Homo sapiens: one gene and its partners. The protein of the gene in region 2 interacts with the protein of the main gene of each other region in a biochemical or structural test. Each region holds a gene or a part of one and is shown on either strand. Other genes may lie near its edges. The genes, in order: NPPC, NPR2 and NPPB.

Evidence for each region.
Region 1: the proteins of NPR2 (region 2) and NPPC form a complex in vitro, tested with the Homo sapiens proteins (3 studies listed by BioGRID).
Region 3: the proteins of NPR2 (region 2) and NPPB form a complex in vitro, tested with the Homo sapiens proteins (3 studies listed by BioGRID).

What each region holds. Positions count from the first base shown.
Region 1 is NC_000002.12:231,923,408-231,931,136, reverse strand, and holds the start of NPPC (C-type natriuretic peptide preproprotein), read left to right. Parts: upstream 1-4,740; 5' UTR 4,741-4,887; coding exon 4,888-4,977; intron 4,978-5,421; coding exon 5,422-5,712; 3' UTR 5,713-5,732; intron 5,733-6,671; exon of another isoform or gene 6,672-7,729.
Region 2 is NC_000009.12:35,794,572-35,801,678, forward strand, and holds part of NPR2 (atrial natriuretic peptide receptor 2 isoform 1 precursor), read left to right. Parts: intron 1-5,046; coding exon 5,047-5,160; intron 5,161-5,450; coding exon 5,451-5,586; intron 5,587-5,817; coding exon 5,818-5,912; intron 5,913-6,137; coding exon 6,138-6,270; exon of another isoform or gene 6,271-6,274; intron 6,275-6,498; coding exon 6,499-6,583; intron 6,584-7,062; coding exon of another isoform or gene 7,063-7,071; coding exon 7,072-7,107. UniProt on the Homo sapiens protein: Receptor for the C-type natriuretic peptide NPPC/CNP hormone. Has guanylate cyclase activity upon binding of its ligand. May play a role in the regulation of skeletal growth.
Region 3 is NC_000001.11:11,856,880-11,863,064, forward strand, and holds NPPB (natriuretic peptides B preproprotein), read right to left. Parts: upstream 2,067-6,185; 5' UTR 1,955-2,066; coding exon 1,823-1,954; intron 1,591-1,822; coding exon 1,335-1,590; intron 793-1,334; coding exon 776-792; 3' UTR 585-775; downstream 1-584.

The DNA of each region.
Region 1 (7,729 bases), on a different chromosome or scaffold from region 2:
GTGCAGGCTCTGAGCTGAGGTTGGGGTGCTGAGCTCTTTTCTGCTGGGGAGGCCCTCTTGCTCACTATCCTGCTCACTTTCTCAGGGCTGAAGCCTCTCACTGCCCCACTCACCTGCCCTTTGACAGCCAGATGGAGAGCTGTTGATTCCCCCAGGGAAGTGAGCCTATTTGTGGAGGACCTGTCTTTTCTTTTTGGCAAGCAGGGGAAAGGAGGAATGAACTCTGACGTCATGGACTGCGTAGGACAGTGGGGTTGGAGGCCATCTGGAGCAGGTGCTGGCAGGACCCCTGGGAAAGGGAAGGAGGGCAGCTGGCTCATCAGATGGGGGTGTCCTGGGGTCAAAGACTCATGGTACAACGAGGTTAAGCTTTCCTGGAATCTCTGGCCCGTGAAGGATGAATGACGCTTCCTTGGCCTCCATCTCCTCCAGTACTCCAGTCCAGCGCCATGGGTGCAGGACTCCTGGAGGAAGGTACCAAGCTCAAGGAGACCTGGCCATGCCCCGGCCTCTGTGTGCTCTGAGGGGCTGCACCACTAAACAGTCCTGGGGAGTTTCGGGGGCTGTGGGGGTCCTCTCACCCAAAAGTATGTGTGGACATGCAGTGACATTCAGATCTCTCTTCTGCCTCAGCTGTCTCCTGCTGTGTTTGGCCAGGGAGAGGTTGGAAGCCTCTTATCAGGCCCCAGATTCACTCTGCCCTGTCTAGAAGACAAGGACAGTGTTTTTCTAATTACAGGTGGTGAAACTGAGGGCCCAAAGCAGTGACGGGACTTGGCCAGTGTCCCGCAGCAATTTCCCTGCCTGACCTCAAGACTCGCTCACTGCCTGTTTAGTGTCTTCTCTGAGAAATTATGCAGCTGGAAGGGGGCCCCGGGATAAACAATTGCAGAGAAACAGATGGGCGGCTCTGCAATCCTCCCCTCCAGTGTGCCTGAGAGCCCTCCCCTGCAGCCCTGGGGCCAGGAGGGGGCGCTGCTTCGCGGGGCTCCTGTTCCTCCCTCCTGGGGACCTAGGCTGGACAGTCCTGTCTTAGCTGCTCCTTCCCCAGCCTCCCAGCAGCCCTTCCACACGCCTTTCTCCCACCAGGCATCCTGACCAGGGCCCACTCTCATTTTCTATCACATCCTGATTCCTGGCCAGACATCGCCTGTCCCAAGGAAGGGCCCCTCTCCAGTAGGTGTCAGAGTCGCACCTTGCCCTTCTGGGAGGAGGGAAAGAGTGAAAAGGGGCCCACAAAACGGGGTCCCGCCCTTCAGAGGGCCAGAAGGGAGAAAATGGTCCCACCCATGCAACTCTCCGACGCTGAAGGCCCTGCATACCCCCAGCCTACTGTGGCAGAGCTGATACCCTGGACTCGCCCATGCAACTCTCTGACACTGAAGGCTCTGCATGCTTCAGGCTGGCTCTGCCTCCCACTTCCTGCTCCCTCCCACTTCCCCCACACCTAGCTGACCCCCTTCCCCTTGCCTCATCTTCAGGCACCCCCAATAAGCTCACTTGCCCTTCCCACCCCCAAGAGCTCAGCAGGCTCCTCTCTCTCCATCACACCCCCCACCTCCAGAACACCATCGACCTTAGAATTGCCTCTCCCTAGTCTGCCTCCTCTGGGCACCCCTGCCTGAAGCACTCCACCCTCCCGAGGTCTGGGCACATGGGGTTCTGCAGTCTCATCGGCCTCCCCTGCCCTCTGTGTTGCCCTTTGGTGAGGCCTCTCATTTGGTTTTTCTCAAACAGCACCCCTCTAGGCCTGACTCTAGTACATTCCACTGTTAGCCTGGTTTTCTGTCGAGGTTTTCCTCTTCTCTTCCCTTCTCTTCCTGTGTTTCCAGGCTCAGCACAGACTTTTCCTTCTCCAGGAAGCCCACCCTGCTAGTCCAGGCTGGAGGAGGAGCCCTCCTTGGGTGGCCTCAGCCTGACCTGTCCCCTTCCCTGTCATTGTCCTTTTCAGCCTACAAAGCTCATGTCTGTCTGCTAGGGGGTTCTTCCCGGCTGGATGGAACCCTGCAGGCTTCAGGGATGCTCAGTAGATACCGGGAGATCAGCGAGATCAGTGAGAACGACATGATTCCTTACAGAATTACCGCGGCCTTGGGGCCTTTTCTCCCTCTTTTGCCGTTAGGAGGAAATTTAAAATTGAGCAGTCAATAAAATGACTTGAATAGCTCATATTCAGCTGCTCAGTGAGTTCAACTTTCCCAGGCCATGCCCCTGGGGCCTGGGGCAGAAGAAGCAGACTTCGTAAGGGAAAAGCAACAAAAAGGGACCTGAGTTCCAAATCTAGGCTCAGGAGGAAGAGTGGGCGTCCTCTGCAGCTCCCCAGGCAAGGAAAGCAAAGGGAGAGGGGAAACCTTCATCTCCAAGGCAGTTATGTGCTGATGGCACACCTCCCGGTGGCCCCTCCTGCCCAGGCCTCTGACTCTTACCCACCCTGCCTCCCAGGCCCCAGCTAAGCAGAAGCTGCTCCACAGCCTGCCCCCCGGGAAGCCTCCCTCTGCAGATGACCACCGCCCAGTGGTCAGGAGTGGCAGCTCACCAGATTTCCCTTCCAAAGATGGGAAGGTGAGTCCAGGGAATCGGCTCTGCCACAGTAGGTTGGGGGTGTCAGTTTTATTAATTTAGCCTCAAAGTTCAAACAGAGAGGAGACCTAGATAGTCAATCACCTGGACGCGAATGTGTCTAGGAACACAGAAGACAGGAAGGACCAACCTAAGGACGTTCAGACAGAAGGAAGTAGCCATGAACAGCGGAAGATTTCCTTAATAAGGGGCTTTAGAGGATGTACTGCTGGCCCCTGGAAACCAGCCCAGTGCTTGACTCTAGAGTCAGTCTGTGTGGCTCTGCCTGACTCTTTAAACAGGTATAAAGAAAGCAAGTGTCAGAGAAGTTCCAGATGGTAACATCCTTCTTTGCACAGCAGGCAAAAAGCAGAGGGAACTTTCACAGCCCACCTGGATACCCCTCCCTATACTGCTTTCTAGTTCCTCTTCCTTTCTCCTCAAATGAAAGAGTGGTGCCACTCTATGGGTGTTAGCACGGAGAGGAATTGGGGGGCTGCGTGGAGGTGGTGACTCAATTCACCAGAATCCACAGAAGGTGCCCTGTTGATGTCTGGATCTTCCTGGAGATCAGGAAACTTTGCTGCCCCAAACTCAGACCTCAGGTGTTAGCTGTTTCCTAAGCAAAGTGACCTGTGTAGTGGTTGCTCCAATGTTGTGAGTCAGGGTATGAGAGTGGGAAGGGGTAGCCTGAGAAAGGTGCCGACAGAGCAGACCATGATGCGGCCGCCTTAGCAGCTCTGGGACCAGGCTCACTACCACGGAGGGAAGAGGGAGGCTTGGAGGGAACCTGGTTCTCCAAGCCCCTCTTCACTCCAGTTGCCTTCCTGCCTCAGGCACAGCTTCCTCTCCCTGGAAAATCTCGTCTGGGCTACTGTCTCCCCAGAATCGCCTTCACGCCTGGGGACAGCCACTGCACTCCTGCGGCAACATTTGTTCTCTCTCCAGCCTGCGTCCTGCTCAGCAGCAGCCAGTCATAGATTCCTGCTCTTCAATCAATTCGGGGGATCTGGGCTCTCCGCCTCTGCGGCCCACACCGCAGTGCCCAAATGCCCACCACACTCCTTAGTGTCCAAGGGACCGAGAAGCCCAGTGCAAGGAGAGCAAGTTCGTGAGTGGTAGGGATATGTGGCCATGTCCCGAGAGCCACGGGGACCTCTCTACAGTCAAAAACGGGAAGTTGACCACCTGTCACGGCTGGCAGAGGCTGGACTGGGCCGCTGGCTAGGAAGCTCTCTCCCCAGCCTGTGAAAGTGCACAGGATACTGGAGCGGGCTTCCCCCAGCAGCGGATCCTCGCGTGGGTGCAGGCAAGGTCAGGTGCGCATTGTTCCCACAGAGGGAGTTCACCAGCGGAGTCAGACCCCGGGACGTTCTGTGTGGCCGAAACCGGCTGAACGTGAACCTAGAGCAGTAACTGGCGAGCATACGATGCCGCGGAGCACACGCATGAGCATGAATATCTTGGTTCCGCGCTCGCAGTCCCCTCGTTCCCGCCTTGCGCTCAAACACTCAGGCTGGCGACACCCCTGCACTCTCCAGTGTGGAAGACTTGCGCTCCCCCCTGCGGCCCAGGCGAACCCCGCTCTCCCTGCGCCTCCCACCCCAGTCCTCCAACCCCATCCTCTGCCTCCCCAACCTAACGACGTCGCTGTGGTCTGCGCTCCCGCCCTGACCGGCAGGTGAAAGGCGGAGCTGCAATGCCATCCCGCGGCTGTCAGGTGCCCAGGGAAGAGTTTGGCGACAAGCAGGGCTGCGTGGATTTCGGGCAGCGCCAACTTTATGCCTGTATGACTTTGGGCAAGTGACTTCATTCCTCTGAGCCTGTCTTTGCACCTGCAAAGAGGGCTACGTATCCCTTCCAGGTAGAGTGAGTGCGATGAGGACCTAGTGGGTGCACAGGGCACCAGGCGCACCGATGCTCGGCAGGCCAGGGCGCGCGCTCGCTGCAAATGGAGTTCCCCTGTGCGCTCAGCTCTGCAGCTCCAAGTGCAGCCTGGAGCGAGCCCGCCGAGCCGCGGGATCCCTCCGGGGTGGGATAAGGGAGGGGAGCCCCCGCGGCCCCCTCCCGGCCCTCGGCGCGGCCGCGTGCGTGGTGTCATTGGCCCGGGCGGCCCGGTGGGCGGGAGGATGACATCAGCGGCAGGTTGGATTATAAAGGCGCGAGCAGAGTCACGGGCTCAGAGCGCACCCAGCCGGCGCCGCGCAGCACTGGGACCCTGCTCGCCCTGCAGCCCAGCCAGCCTGCTCCGCATCCCCCTGCTGGTCTGCCCGCCGACCTGCGCGCCCTCGCTGCCGCCCGTGTGCGCCCCTCGACCCCAGCGGCACCATGCATCTCTCCCAGCTGCTGGCCTGCGCCCTGCTGCTCACGCTGCTCTCCCTCCGGCCCTCCGAAGCCAAGCCCGGGGCGCCGCCGAAGGTGGGTGCTGTCGTGGGGACGCCGAGCCTGGGAGAGGCGTGGGAGGCTGGGGGCTTGGAGAATGCGGCGCGCAGGACCCAGGAGAGAGGGAAGGCAGGCGGCTGTCTCCTCCGAGATGCGCGTGGGCGAGAGCCGGGGAGCCCTCGAAGCGCGGATTCGGGGGTCCACTTCTCCAGCCTCCGGAGAACATCGGCCCATGCGCAGCCCCCTACCCCAGTGTGGCCTGCCCGGCGAGCAGCAAAGGGAGGGCAGGGGGCTTCCGGAGGGAGCGGCGAAGGCGGCCGCGTGGCAGGTGGATGCGGGGCCAAGCTGGCCGGCATCGGTGGGGGCGGCTCTGGGCTTGGGAGGGACACCCCGCGCCGGCGGGCGCGTGGGGCTGGAGCATCAGAGTCCCCCGTGCTGCAGCCGCGTGTCCCTTCACCTGCCCGCTCTTTCCTCGGACAGGTCCCGCGAACCCCGCCGGCAGAGGAGCTGGCCGAGCCGCAGGCTGCGGGCGGCGGTCAGAAGAAGGGCGACAAGGCTCCCGGGGGCGGGGGCGCCAATCTCAAGGGCGACCGGTCGCGACTGCTCCGGGACCTGCGCGTGGACACCAAGTCGCGGGCAGCGTGGGCTCGCCTTCTGCAAGAGCACCCCAACGCGCGCAAATACAAAGGAGCCAACAAGAAGGGCTTGTCCAAGGGCTGCTTCGGCCTCAAGCTGGACCGAATCGGCTCCATGAGCGGCCTGGGATGTTAGTGCGGCGCCCCCTGGCGGCGGTGAGTACGGCCCACCCGACGCCCAGCCCCAGCCCGGCCCGGGACCGCCCGCCGCCCAGCCGGCCTTCGGAGGCGCGCGAGCCGCCTTTGCTCAAGTTGTGCTAGGCGTTTGCCAGCCGCCCCCTTTATTATCCCACTTTACAGACAAAGAAAGCGAAGGATAACGTGATCGGGGAACTTTGGCAAGGTCAGAAACGGCTCAGCCTGGTTGAACCCACCTGGCTTCTTCTGGAGAAGCAGAAACAGGCTTGGTGGTGTCTCACCCACCCCTGAACCGTAGCTGAACTAGCAGCACTGGCCCCTATTGGCCAGCTGGTGGGGGGATTGAGAGGAGATCATGGGTTTGTGGGAGCAGAGAAGGAAGGTTACACCCACAAGTCCAGGGGACATCGATCATCTGCTGGCCACCATGCCCCCTGTAGTGAGAGTAGCCCTCTGCTGGCACTGTCAGAGCGCCCTTCTGCCTGGGACACTCCGATTCCTGTCCCTTCTCTAAACCCAGGCAGTGGGCAAACTGGTCTGTCCAGGGTCCTGAGGCAGCTGCAGCCTGGTGGCTTCGGGGGTGAATCTCAGTGCTTGTGGCACTATTTCAGGGAATAGGAAAGACACTAAAGTAAATATTATTTGCCCCAGCCTCGAACTCAACACGTCCCAGAGTCCCTCACCAACCCTGTCCCGACCCAACCGGTGCTCTGGGCTCCGTTTCTGGTGTGGGGTCTCACCCCGCACTAGGGCTGGAAACCTCTGCCCTACCGCCACCCCCTGCCGGGTGCCGCGTGGTGGTAATTTACTGCTGCAGAGAGCCTCACCTCTCCTCTTTCCCTCCTCTCTATTCCTGCCGCCTGCCCGTGCCCACTGAATAACATCCCAGCCTCTGACATTGACAGTCATGTGCGTTAGGATCAGGCTTACCTGGCTTTCTCGCTTTCTTGCCTCCAGCTCAGCAGCTGCCACTGCCTGTCCCACACCTTGACTGTCCCATCCCAGGCTACGGGCAAGCTGCTGTCTCCTCCCCAGAAACCCTTGTCAGTGTCGGATCTTCTCCCGGAGGGAAACAAGAGCGCCTGTCCAGCACACTGTCTCTTTTTTACAGTACAGAACACTTTTTCACAGTTTGTGAACCCATTCACCTCTCCATATTGAACAGCTTAAGGGCGAAGTGCTGGCCTAAGGCACTCTAGGACCCACTGCACCCCGAACAGACTCGTGGAAATATTTGTCAATGACCAGAGAAACCAGCACACCCTGGCCCATGGCCACTCCCACCTGCCCGAGGTTTTAACCAGTGCCCTTCCTCTCTTTGCAGCCAGACCTCACTCGGCTGTGGGCCTCTCCCCAGTTCTGCAAAGGCTGTAGTTGTCTGTGATCTTGACTCTCCCCTGCACAGGGAGAAGAATGATTCTGACACTTGGGGACCAGCCTTCAGTAGCTACCCTTGGAATGCCTTTGCTCTCTTCTCTCCTGTCTAAACAACAAAGAGACGGAGTCTGAGGCCTCAAATTTTCAGTTTGATTTAAGCATCAAGTTCAAACTTTAGAACCTGAGCAAATGTTAGTGACTCTCCATTGGTTCGTACCTGGAATGCGCATCCCCACAGGGGCTTTGTTCTTGGGCCTGGATGTCTGTGGTCACCAAGTGATGGCCAAACGGGTGGTGAAAGATGCTGTGTAGGAGGAATCCACATTGTTAAGAATTCTCGACCCCTTTGATCAGGGGGGTTCAATAATCTCCTACCAGCTCTCTTAGCATAGATGAACACTTACCGTCGACACCTTCAACACCGGCTTACGCCCAACACCAGCTGTTTTATTATTATTTGGGAAGGGCGGTGTGGATTTATTATTTGGGATTTTTTAAATGAAAAATAAAAACCCCACCCTCACTGCCCCCCATTCCCAGTGAGAGAGCAGAACATCATTCCTGCAGGCTCCTGGTGACGATGCCCAGGATATATCACTGGGCGTAAAGAGAAAGACAGCTTAGATTTTTCACATTAA
Region 2 (7,107 bases):
TACACAGGAAGTGAGACCGTATTGTGACTTTAATGATAGATGTCATATTCATAGTCAGAGTGGGAGAGGAGATCCAAGCATCCTGAGCAAAGAGAAAAAGATAGGAATGGGCGTGTTTGAGAGACCAAGAAGATACTGACCCGACAAGAATGAGGGGTTCACTTAAAGGAGATACAGGAAATAAAGTTGCAAAGGTAGAATCAGATTAAGGAGAGCTCTAAGTCTTAAGGCACTAGGACTTGAATTTGGGGTCCTTGACTTTTTGTGTGTGTGTGTGTGTGTGTGGAGATAATTATACAGTAGTGACAGAATTCAGGATTAGAAGAGGGGGAGACCTGGGGCAGTGAGACCAACTGTAACAGATTAGAAGGGGGTGAGGTGATATAGCTTGAACTAGTGTGATGATAGCAGGAATGGAAAGAAACGCATTTCAGATTTCAGAAAATTTGTGGGGAATGTTGGCATGACTCTGTTCATTTCACTCCTGCTCAAAACTTTCAGTGACTTGTGTTCTAGAGAATAAAATCCTGACTCCTTATTGTGACATTTAAGACCTTCTGCAGTCTGTTCTCAAACCACTTTTTCAGTCTTACCTCCTGGTACCCTCATGCTGAGAACTGCAGCCTACCAGGCCTCTGAGTTCCCCCAACCCCAGGGCCTTCCTGCCCCTGTGCCTTTATGTTCTTTTTCCTTTTGTCTGGAATGCTCTTCCTTCCCTCATCCCAAATATCTGCCTCTCAAAATCATACCCATGAATCTTCCCGATTCCCCCGCCACTTTTTTACTAACCGTGCATATAAGTGTTTCCCGTGTATTTATCCATATCCCTCCTTTTTTCCAAGAAGGATTGGAGGTGGCTTATGGGATAACCTTAAAGTCCTTTAAACTCTGGGATTATTTGGTTCGAAGTAGCTGTGTATAAGGGCTGGACCTGGGTGGCCATTCTTCTCCAATAAGGTTTTATGTGGCTGTGATTATATATTTGGTTGCGACTGACGAGTGTGTGTCTGACTGAGAATGACATAGCTGTTTGCATGCCTGAGAATGAGTCTGTGACTGTCACACTTGAATATGGGCAGTGGCAGGGCAGGTTTTGTTTATGCCATAATGTTTTCCTAAAACAATCTTCTCACCTTTGTCTGGGTAATGCTTCCATATTCTTTAAGACTCATACCAGTTATTTTCCTTTCTAGGAAATGATCCCAGAATCCCTAAGTGGGACTGAATTTCCTACTCTTTTGCTTAACTCCATCTACCATAGAACTAACCATATTATTCAGTCTGTGTTTGATTTATTTGAAGGCTGACTCATTTCATTAGTATTTACTGAGCACCTATCATGTCCAGTCACTGTGCTAGGTACTGGTATACAAGGGAGAGCATAACAGACTTTGTTCCTGCCTTTTTGGAGTTTACATTTGGTAGGATGGGCAGGCAATAAATAAGTAAGCAAATAAATACAAATGTAGGAACATATTGTGATGTGTTACTAAAACATAAAGAGGAAAGGAATAGAGTGTTATGAAAAGAGAAGAACAAGGGGATTGTACTTCAGCTGGTGTGGACTGCAGAAGATCTGTGACCCTCTCAGATGGGAGCACTCCATAACCTTCCTGGTTATATCCTTTTTCTTTTTGAGACAGCTCTGTTGCCCAAGTTGGAGAGCAGTGGTGTGATCACAGCTGCTCACTGCAGTCTTGACCTCCCAGGCTGAAGCAATCCTCCCACTTCAGCCTCCCGAGTTGCTGGGACTACAGGCATATGACACCATGCCCAGATAATTTTTTATTTTTTATAGAGATGGGGTCTTATCATGTTGCCCAGGCTGGTCTCGAACTCCTGGGCTCAAATGATCTTCTTGCCTTGGCCTCTCAAAGTGCTGGGATTACAGGCATGAGCCACTGCGCCTTGCTGGCTGTATTCTATTTGTGGAAGAAAAGCCTCACTTTCTTCTGTGAGCATTATTGCCCAGCCAAGAGTCCCCAGCATTAAGGGTAGCTAGAGGAGGGATCTAGTCATCCAATAATCAGTTATATCAATTAACTCTCAGTTCTCCCCCTCACTGTGGGCATTATTCAGACAGAGAAATAAAGAGGGAATCTTTGCTGCAACACAAGAGAAGGGAACTAGGCACCAGGAATATGCTGATGGGAAGGTCAAGGCTTTGGGTAGGTGGGGCTGAGGGGTGATAAGGTGCCCCGCCCCCCACCTTCCAATGGGGAAGCAGGGGAGAGTCTGAGGGAAGTTGGGCAGTTAGCTACAGCCAAGCAAGGATGAAAGAGCACAGAGCCTTTCTCCCAGAGACACTGGCCCTCTGAGGTCCCAGACCAGGCCAGCCTGGAAAAGGTGGCAATAGAGGAAAGGAGGCCTTGACACAGATGCCCACAGCTTTTCCAGGAGGGTATCATGCTCAAGGAAAGGCCTTAGCTCATGCCGTATCGATACTGGCTACTAGGGAGAGAGCTCTGAAATCAAGTATGTTGATATGATTTTTCTCTCCCATTTAGCCACTAGCTGCTCCAGGGCAGGGATCATGCTCATCTTCATATTCCATATGTCTAGCATGTAGTAGGTGTTTAACACATATTTGCTGAATTGAATTAGGGGTGTGTTGGGGAGAGGGGGATAGGATGAGGAATTCACCTAGACAGGAGTAGAGCTGGCAAGTAATGTAAACTAGGTGATCAACCAGGATAGGGAAGAAAAGATTGAGTGGAACTAAATAAGCAATGACCAGGCTCTGAGGATCCAGAAGCCCAGGCTGGTCAATGGAGGACTACAGGGTTAGAAACCCAGGCAGAGGTCACAACCTACATGACCAGCATGAGATTGGGTTACACACAGGGAGCACCAGCGGCAAGAATGGAAGAAAGCACTAAACCAAGGGCTTGGAGATCACTTGTCTCATTAGGCCACTGTTGACCACTCTCCAGTTGGCCAGGGCAAGTCTCAGTGGGCGGGTCCACAGATAGAGGCAGGTGCCTCCTGAGGGTGCACATTTCCTAGGTGTGCTCCTGGCACCCACCCACCACTGCACCCATTTGTGGCGGACTTTGCTTGTTTTTTCCACCTGGGGTCCACTGTGAAATGGGACACAATTATCCTCCTTCACTTTCTCTCAAACCCCTGAGCAAGCACAGAAACTGTTTGAGGTTGGGTTTTTTTTTTTGGTTTGGTTTTTCATTTTTGTTTTTTGGTACTACAACTACAACTAGTAACCACAGCAAAAACAGTTCTAGCATAGCAGTTTAGGGGGACCATGGGGTCAAAACTATTTAAAAATAATACAAAGATCTTATCTGCTTTGTCACGCTTGTTCTTTTGTGATTGTGTAGGGAAGTTTTCCAGAGGTTACATGGCATGATGATGTCATCACTTGGACAGCTATGGAAGGTGTGCTTGTGTGTTCTTGCGTTTTCAAAATTTATCAGTTTTAATTTCTAAGATGGTCAATATTGATAGATATAGTCCACATAAACAAACTTTATTTGGGGTCCTTAATAATTTTTAAGAGTATAAAGCGATTGTGAGACCAAAAGTTTGATAACTGCTAGCCTAACAAACTAGCCAAACTTAGTGTTGAGAATTAGTGTTTAAAATGTGTTAAAAACCTATCATCAGCCTTTATTGAAATATAAATTGTGTTGAACCTGATCTTTTCTCGCCCTTTTCCTGACTTTTTACATTGCTTGTCAACAATATTCTACCTCTTTATTTTATTCTTGGAACAGGTGCTACTGAATGAACTATTTCAACCCTTTCCTCAATTCCCTTCTCTTTTTAAAAAAATTTTACCTGAGACTGGGAGAATGTTAGAAGTGTGTAATCAGGCAGCTAAATGCTCTAGTAAGAATAATGATATCTTGAGGCAAGCTGCAGTCTAATATAATATAATGAATGCATATTAGAAATCGACTTTATTATTTCCTATCTCTAATGAATTGATACATAATAGGCCATATGTGATGTGTCTAGTGCAGCGTATCTCTATGGTCCACATGTACTTTCTATGACAAGAATAAACAAAACTGGGAGAAATGACCGGATTTTAAATTATCATTTCACAAAGTCATGTTTCATAAAATATATTGAACTGAAGTCTTTCCTTGAAGTTGTGATGCCAGTTTCCTGTTGGAGCAGAAGTTGGTCTCAGTGACTATGTGGCCTGAGGCAGGGCCTGAGACTGGGAGGTCCAGCAGCTCAGGAAGGGGAAATGTGTGAGACTAATGGGAGCCAAGCAGGCACTTTGGTGAGAGACAGAGATGCTGACTCATGCGCCAGTGAGATGTGTGCATGTCTGAGATCACATGTGTCATTTGCTTACCTGTGAAATGTGTGTGGGCATGTGACTGTGTGTTTGTCCCTGTGACACATCTATTACTCAGTAAGCAGGACAGTGCTGTTTGTGGTAGGTGTTCCACACATTAAATGGATGAGCACACAGCTTTTCACAGGTGGAATCACTGTCTCAAAGTATTTCCCTCAGTTGTCATAGGGCCTGAAATCTCTCTAATTCACTGGGCGGAGACACTGTGTTCAAGTGGCCGAAATGACAATGTTAGTATTTTACTGATGACATTAACAGTGATTAACATCTCAGAGAGGAGCTGTTAGTGGGTGTTGTCCTTGATCATAAGCAGATACCCAGAAAGCATGGGACAGAGGAGCCGTGTGAGCTGTGGTGGCCTGGCAGGAACCTGGATGCTGGAAGGGAGCTCTGGAAGATGTTGGGCTGGGCTTTGGGGATGGGGTTGACTATTATTTGCCAGTTTCCACCTTCCCAGAACCAGTCCTATCTACCTTTCAGGAGGAGTGCCACTCCCTCTTCCCAGATGTATGCAACACAACACACACACACACACACACACACACACGCACACACACACGCAGAGAGAGAGAGGTTAGTAGCCCTTTCAAAGCCTTCAGACTCACCTGTGTATATTTTATATCATGTATATTTTACCAAGTTTCCCTGTCCTGCATCTTCTCTTCCCATAATGCCTATCTTGAATCCTGTTCACTCTTCCCCATATGCTGCTGGTACAGACTGTATTGGTGATCACGTACCGAGAACCCCCAAATCCTGAGTATCAGGAATTCCAGAATCGTCTGCTGATAAGAGCCCGGGAAGACTTTGGTGTGGAGCTGGGCCCTTCCCTGGTAAGTAGATCTCTCCCTTCCTGAGAGTCAGGTCAAGCTTTGGGGAAGGGCTTCTCTCCCAAACTCAGCATCAAGTCTTGGCTGTGGAGCAAGCCCAACTTTGGGGGGTCTCCGCTTCTGTCCAGGATTTTTCCTTCTGCCCTATGGAGTAGTTAGGAAGGGATGGCACTTTAGGAATAAGAGGGAAGAAAGCAAACCAGAAGAGAGAATAGGTAGAAGGGAGACCCCAGAGAGAGGGGAAGGGGCCTTGCAGGACATTTGGAGAGTACTGCTGAAGTTGCCACCCCCAGATGAACCTCATCGCTGGCTGCTTCTATGATGGGATCCTGCTATATGCTGAAGTCCTGAATGAGACAATACAGGAAGGAGGCACCCGGGAGGATGGACTTCGAATTGTGGAAAAGATGCAGGGACGAAGATATCACGGTAATGAAGAGGGGTCAATGGGGGTCTGAGGGCTGATGTCAGGAATAGAGTGGGCTGAAGAAGAAACAGATGTCAGGATCACCACAGCTTTAGTGGGGGTTAGTGAATATGGCAGAGTTGCCCACACCTCAAGATCGGGGAAGGGTAGACTCTGAGGGAGCCGTAGGCATGAGTGAGTGGGAGAGGAGCCCAGGGTAGACCTCAAAGAAAGGACACTCTTTTCTGTCTTAGGTGTAACTGGGCTGGTTGTCATGGACAAGAACAATGACCGAGAGACTGACTTTGTCCTCTGGGCCATGGGAGACCTGGATTCTGGGGACTTTCAGGTGATGGAGGAGGAGGCAGGGAAGAGAGTGTGGCCCTGCAAAATCCAGCTTTCAAGGGTTCAGTCGGGGCAGAACCAAAACTACTAGATGAGGGATTTGTTTTCTCTGCTGGCACTGCATCCTGGCTGGGTGGTAGGCTGGGGAGAAAAGCAGCGAAACAGCTGGGGTCTGGGGAGGAGGCTGGTGGGAGCAGGCCTGTGGGCCCAGCTTTTTGCTTCCTTACAGCCTGCAGCCCACTACTCGGGAGCTGAGAAGCAGATTTGGTGGACGGGACGGCCTATTCCCTGGGTGAAGGGGGCTCCTCCCTCGGACAATCCCCCCTGTGCCTTTGACTTGGACGACCCATCCTGTGATAAAAGTGGGTGTGTGCAGGGACTGGGAGCAGCTTTCCTCCCTTTGCTTTCCATTCATGGCCTCCACCCTCACTGACCCTCCACTCTTAACTGTGCTTCTGCCTTTACGTCTGCATCCCTCCCTCCTCATTTCTTCCTACTCCCAAGGAGTCTGTCTATGCACCTATGCACCCCGTTCTCCATTCTGCCAAGTCCGCACACAGTCTTCCTCAGGGTCTCTATTTCCCCTTCAGCTCCACTTTCAACCCTGGCAATTGTGGCTCTGGGCACAGGAATCACCTTCATCATGTTTGGTGTTTCCAGCTTCCTAATTTTCCGGTGAGTTCTGGGTTTCTTGCTGACCTACTCCCTGCCCCCATTGCCACACAACCTCTGGCTGAAGCCAGGTGGTCCCTATAATGTGGGATAGGGTAGTAGGTTTCTTAATTTGCTGGTTGTCTCTTAGATCCAACAGCGTCTTCCTCTCTAGCCTTTCTCTTTAGTTGTCGCTTAGCCTAGGTGTTTGTTCCACTTTTGGTCCTAGACTGGATATACTAACTAGTGTTTTTCAGTGGGGTTAAGATCAAAGGTGAATTTTCCATTGGTCTTCTTTTAGGAAAGAACTTTCACCCCCAGTCTCTGTGTTTGTTAGTGAGCATAGGGCATGTGCCAGATATGCCGAGAATGCAGCCTTATCTTCCAGCCCTGTCTCTCAGGTGTAACAGTTGCAGCTTCAGGAGCTGCAGGGAAGCCCCTGCAACCCTGCTGTTGGCTTGGGGGTGGCAGGATTCGGCTTGCCAGTCAACTGAGGTGTGCAGTCCTTACAGAAAGCTGATGCTGGAGAAGGAGCTGGCTAGCATGTT
Region 3 (6,185 bases), on a different chromosome or scaffold from region 2:
TAAGGCAAAGAGAAGAGATGATGCAGCCCCAGGGGAGGGGCACCCTGGAAAGCTGGGCTGATTGCCAGACCCCTCTCACTTTGTGGGTTGGAGTTTTGAAGGCTCCTTTGCAGGATGACCCCAGGAATTGGAGTTTCAAAGCTGATATTTGGGGCAGGATGGAGGGCTCACCCCGGTATGGGAATGTAGATGAGCCACACCCACACACACTGCCCCCAGTCGTTGACATTTTAGCTGAGACCTGAAAGCAATAATCCCCAGGGAGAGTGCTTTAATGGTGGAATTCCAGGCAGAGCAAGGACGAGTGGAGAAAACGGCTGGATACGTGCCCTCAGGTTGCACACGTATCCTGCCCTGCTTTGAAAAGCAGTTTCTCCCAAGTGCCTCAAGTGCTTGAGATATTCAATAACATTTCAGAGCATTAAAAACTCTGAAAGAAAAGAAAGCCTGCTACCTCTGAGGCCACATCCTCATCCCACCATGAAGATGCCTTGAGATCACAGGGCTTTGTGGTTTTAGTTGGGTTGGTTTCTTTGAAATGAGGGATTATTTTTAATGCGCCAAGACAAATCAGTTTCAAAAGATAAAGCTTATAATGTTGACTTTATTTCACCGTGGAAATTTTGTGCTCAAAGGTAAGAAACCATCTTATATAAAACAATCAAATAAATACATAAATACATTAAAAAAATGAGTCACTTCAAAGGCGGCCACAGGGTTGAGGAAAAAGCCCCTTGTGGAATCAGAAGCAGGTGTCTGCAGCCAGGACTTCCTCTTAATGCCGCCTCAGCACTGTCAGGGAAAGAGAGAGGGTGATGATGGTTAGGGTGGGAGATGGAGGCAGGGGCTGAGCTTACCTCATCGTGTGCCACCCACCACCCTGTTAGTCATCAGACGTTTGAGGCTTAATGCAACTCTCTGAGCCTCAGTTTCCTCATCTGTAAATTGGGGATTATCATTGCTCTGGTGATCCTGCTCTCTGCCTTTGAGACTATAGACAGTTTAGAGGAAACCAGGAGGAAATGTTTGGTTCTCTTTCTGCACCACTGGGGGGCTGCCAAATGATAAACAGACCCCCAAAGGAGATTCTGCCCCTTTGATAAGAAGTAGGAGGTGGGGAGAAGGTATTGTGGGCATGGTAATGAAATAAGCCCACATTTACTAATTCCACAAAGGCACCCCTTGGCCCTGAAGGCTGTTAACAAGAGGAAGCGATGTCCAGGTGACCTTTTCTCAAAGAGTGTGGTTCCCAGAGACAACAAACCCCAAAGTGACTCTAACAGTGTCACACACTGGAATGGGGGAAGGCGGCCGGGGTGGCAGGGGGTGCTTACCTTTGCAGCCCAGGCCACTGGAGGAGCTGATCCGGTCCATCTTCCTCCCAAAGCAGCCAGACCCTTGCACCATCTTGGGGCTTCGTGGTGCCCGCAGGGTGTAGAGGACCATTTTGCGGTGCCCACGGATGCCCTCGGTGGCTACCTCCCGGGACTTCCAGACACCTGTGGGACGGGGGCTCTCCTGGAGGGGCTCCAGGGATGTCTGCTCCACCTGCAGCTCCGACAGTTTGCCCTGCAAATGGTTGCGCTGCTCCTGCAATGAATGGGGGCGTCCAAGCCTCAGGGACCCACCCCTGGGCTCACCAGCCCTTCATGGCACCCAAGTGAACCGACTGCCTTGGGTACAGGGTCAGGGCACCCAGTCTCTCCATTTTCTGATTCCTTTATCACTAATTCCAAAGGAAAGATGAGGGCCTCTTGGGACAGCAGGTGAGGACCCTTTCATTGCTGCTGTCCAATCCCCCTGAGCTGCCCTCCGCTCTCACCTGTAACCCGGACGTTTCCAAGTCCGAGGCTGAACCGGGGCTGCCCAGCGGGTGGGAACGACCTCCCAGGAAAGCCAGATGCAAGAAGAGCAGGAGCAGGAGCGCCCGGGAAGGTGCTGTCTGGGGATCCATGTCTCTGGAGGGACTGCGGAGGCTGCTGCTGCTGCTTCTGCTGCTGCTGCTGCTGCTGCGATGCGTCCGGGTTTGCTTCCCACCTGCCCTCAGCCTGCGGGGTGCTCCTCCTGGCTCCTCGGGACACCGTGGCCTTTTATCCTGGAGCTGAGTGTCGGGCCTGCCCTGCCATGCAGGGTTATCTCTGATTTATCAGCCACATTCCGGGCCTCTGAGATCAGGGCCCGGGAATGAGCCCCTCCGCGCCTGCGACGTGGGAGGTGGAGACCGGGCAGAGCCGACCTTGTATAGAAATGGGCCGGGTCGGGCCGGGGGGCAGGAACGCGCTGGAGACACAGACAAGTCCCCGTCTCCCGCTTCTTCCTTTCCTGCAAATGTCCAGGTGTCCTAGGTTGGCGCTTTCTTCCTGCCTCCCCACCCCACCGTTGCTGGAAAAGGCAGGGAGGACCCCGGCTTTCCGAGGACCGACGTGAGCGCGGGGAGCACGGGGTGACTCACAGCGAAAACAGCCCCGGCCAAGACCCCGCCACCCGCGGCGCCTCTCCCCTCCCCGCGCGAGTTCCCTGGCCCGCACGTAGCGCAGCACCTGCTCGCCGCTGTGCACCCTGCCTGCCTGCGGGTCCTCGGGGGCGCCCTGGCCGCTGTCCGTGGTGCTGATCACCCCGAGGGAACTTGGAGCAAACTCTCAAGAGCTGCTCTCTTCAACGGGATTTTCAGGCCAGAAAGACCTGCGTGGAGCAAGGACAAGAGACCTCCGAGACCTTTCCCTATGCTCTCACAATCCGCCATCTTATAGTCCTTACAGCAACGGGATGCTGATTCCCCAGTGGCAATTCATTAAAAGCCTGGGTATGACCAGGAACTTCTGGAATGCTGACCCTTCTTTCACTCCTTAAAGGGAAGAGCAGATTTCGCTGGAATTTTGAGAGATAGGGTCCAGTGATGACGAAGTCACCCAAGAATGCCTTATATGTGTGTCCTCCACGTGTCAACACCTCCTCTCCCCCACCAAGCCAACACAGGATGGAAAACAAAAGGATAGGCTGGGCATGGTGGTTCACGCCTGTAATCCCAGCACTTTGAGAGGCCGAGGCGGTCGGATCACGAGGTCAGGAGATCGAGACCACGGTGAAACCCCGTCTCTACTAAAATTACCAAAAATTAGCTGGGCATGGTGGCAGGCGCCTGTAGTCCCAGCTACTCGGGAGGCTGAGGAAGGAGAATCACTTGAACCCAGGAGGTGGAGGTTGCAGTGAGCTGAGATCACGCCACTGCACTCCAGCCTGGTTGACAGAGAGCGAAAAAAGAAAGAAAGAAAGAAGGAAAGAAAGAAAGAAAGAAAGAAAGAAAACAAAAGGATGGCTGGAATGATGGTTATCTATTTGCTGGGATACCAGAGATATGGGGATTTCCCCTCTCCCAGTGCCTCCTTCATCTGACCACCCATGATCTAATTATCATTAGCAGGTGGCCTGGTGATTAGAAGTGAGACTTTGGAGAGAAATGCCCCTGAGAAGAGTCATAGCAGCTTAAATACCCCCCTAAAGCATATATGACTGATGTCACTCCCCTTCCAGAGAATTGGTGTCAACAAGCAGCAGGCTGGAGGAGTGGAGCTGTCTATGAGGGGAGAAGAGTTACAGCAGAGAAGGGCAGCAATAAGAAACTGGGACCTCTAAGCAGATCTTGCCTAAAAAATAGCATCTGCCCCTGAGGTGAGAAAAGCACGGTTATTATTCCTCACTTCAGAGGAGGAAATGGTGTTCATGAATTAATCTACTTTCCAAAAGTCACACAATTGACACATGATAAATCCTGGATTCTAACCAGTCTGATTAGTCTAGCCAGCAGTCTGATTCCAGACCTGAAGCTCATAATCACTGCCAGGGTGATCACAAGGTGTTTCTACAAAAAGCAAGCTTAGGTGAATCCCGTGTCATCTATGAAGGCTCTGGGAGCTGTGCTGTGGGGGATGTGCAATTCTAGTGGTGACTGTGTGTGCAGGAGAAAGAATGGGAAGTGGCTCAGATGAGCATTTTGCAGATGAAATATAAATGGAGGTGGGTGGGTAAGGGCTGTGTAAAGACACCAGTGCTGGAAATGTTCTGGGGGGCTGGGGTAGTTTTGTGTGTGTGTGTGTGTGTGTGTGTGTGTGTGTGCGTGCACATGAGCATGCCACAGTAAGAGTATCAAAAGGCTAAGAGGAAGCTAAAGAGGTAAGAAAATTCAGCCAAGTGCAGAGGGGAGTCAGTGGGCGAGAGGCTGCTGAGGGTGCAGAAAGCCCCTCATGCTGAGTACCATGAGATAAAGGGTTCAGAGCAAGGCAGGATTCATCAACCAGCACCATCAAAAACTGACTCTGCATCTCGCCAGAGCCTCACTTTGCTCTTCGGCAAAATGGACAGTCCTTGCAAGGACTAAAAGGAAAAAAATAATATCTGCAAAAGCCCGTGGCACTGTATAAAGGGCCAAATAATTAGTAGTACATGAGAGTTGGTCTTTACACTGAAGGAGATTGTGATCTCACTGGGGAGACAAAGTGACCCCAAGTGAGACAATTAAGTGTCTAAGTGTCATACACTCTGACAGAGTTTCTATCTGTCCCCAGTGGAGGGGACTGTGGAAGAAGACTTGAGGAAGACACAGAACTAGACACATCCTCCAAGGCCTGCTGTCCAGGGAGGAGGATATGTTGTCAACTAACTCTCACACCAGATCAGCCCCATCAACATTTATCGAGGGCCTGTCATATGCTATGTGCTTTCCAAGTCTATTTAATGAAGCTAATCATAACACCTCTGTTGGAGCATTAATGTACAAGGATTAAATTTGATGATGTCTGTGGTAAGCTGAATAATAGTCCCCAAAAGATGTCCATATTCTAATCCCCAGAATCTGCGAATATACTACTTTACATGGTAAAAAGGACTTTGCAGGTGTGGTTAAGTTAAGGACCTCAAGGTGGAGAGATTCTCCTGGATTATTCAGGAAGGCTCAATGTCATCACAAGGGTCCTTATAAGAGGGAAGCCAGAGGATCAAGGTCAGAGGGACAAAATGTAAGGATGGGAACAGGTCAGAGAGGAGAGAAGAGACTACACTGCTGGCTTTGAAGATAGAGGAAGGGGCCATGAGCCAAGGAATGTAATCAGCCTCTAGAAGTTGGAAAGGGCAAAGAAATGGATTTTTCCCTAGAGCTTCCAGAAGGAATATGGGCCTGCCAATACCTTAGTTTTAGCCCAGTGAAACAGATTTCAGACTTCTGATGTCTGGAACTGTAAGAAAATAAAATCATGTTCTTTTAAGCCAACAAGCTTGTGAGACTTTGTTTCAGCAGCAATGGGAAATTAATAGAGTATATGTCAAATGCCAAGCATAGTGTCTCTCCCATAGTAAGCCCTCAGCAAATGTTGTTATGGTAGAAGTATTGGTTCCCCACCACCATCCAACTCTAAGTGCTTAATCTGGCCACACAGAAAGAAATAAGACCCTTAAGTCATTCAACAAACTTTCACCGAGACCCTGGGGTCACAGTAGCCCAGACCCAAGACTGAAATCACAGTCTGGGCTCAATTTCACATCAACTTCTTGCTACCTTTGTGTGTTGGGCAAGTTGCTTCCTCTCTCTCCTTGTTTTCTCATGGCTACCTCATAGGGTTGTTGTGAGCATAAAATGAGACTGTGCAGGTTAAAATCTAATATTTCTGCTGGAAGGTGGGGATACATAACGGACAAGAAAGTCCCTGCCATTGAGAAGCTTACAGTGCAGGGGGAAAGGTGGGCACAATCACAGGCTCCCCAGGCTGCCACAGTGAGTGACAGATACAGTGGCAGTGAGTCCTGGATGCTCTGTGAGCACAGCAGGAGTGCGCAGTCGAGAAGGGAGTTTGTTGGAGAAGGTGGGGCTGGGCTAAGGCTTTGAAGGATAAGAATGAGTTAGCCACAAGAAGGAAGATGGAAGATGGGGAGGGCACTCTGGGCAGAGCAGATGCACAAGCAGAGGCTAGAAGGGCTGGTTAATGGATCAGCTACCACCCCTATGCTCTCTGCAGAAGGAAGAAGCTGTGCAGAATACAAGGTTTGACTAGTCAGAGAGTAGGACTCCAGCTGCAAGATTTTTCTGTAGCTTCCCTCTGGCCTCAATCTCCAGTCTAGTCCTGGGCAGCCAAAGTGGATGGTATGAGAGCACTGGGCACCTGGGGGAAGCAAAGGAGGAAACAGAGGAGCACTGA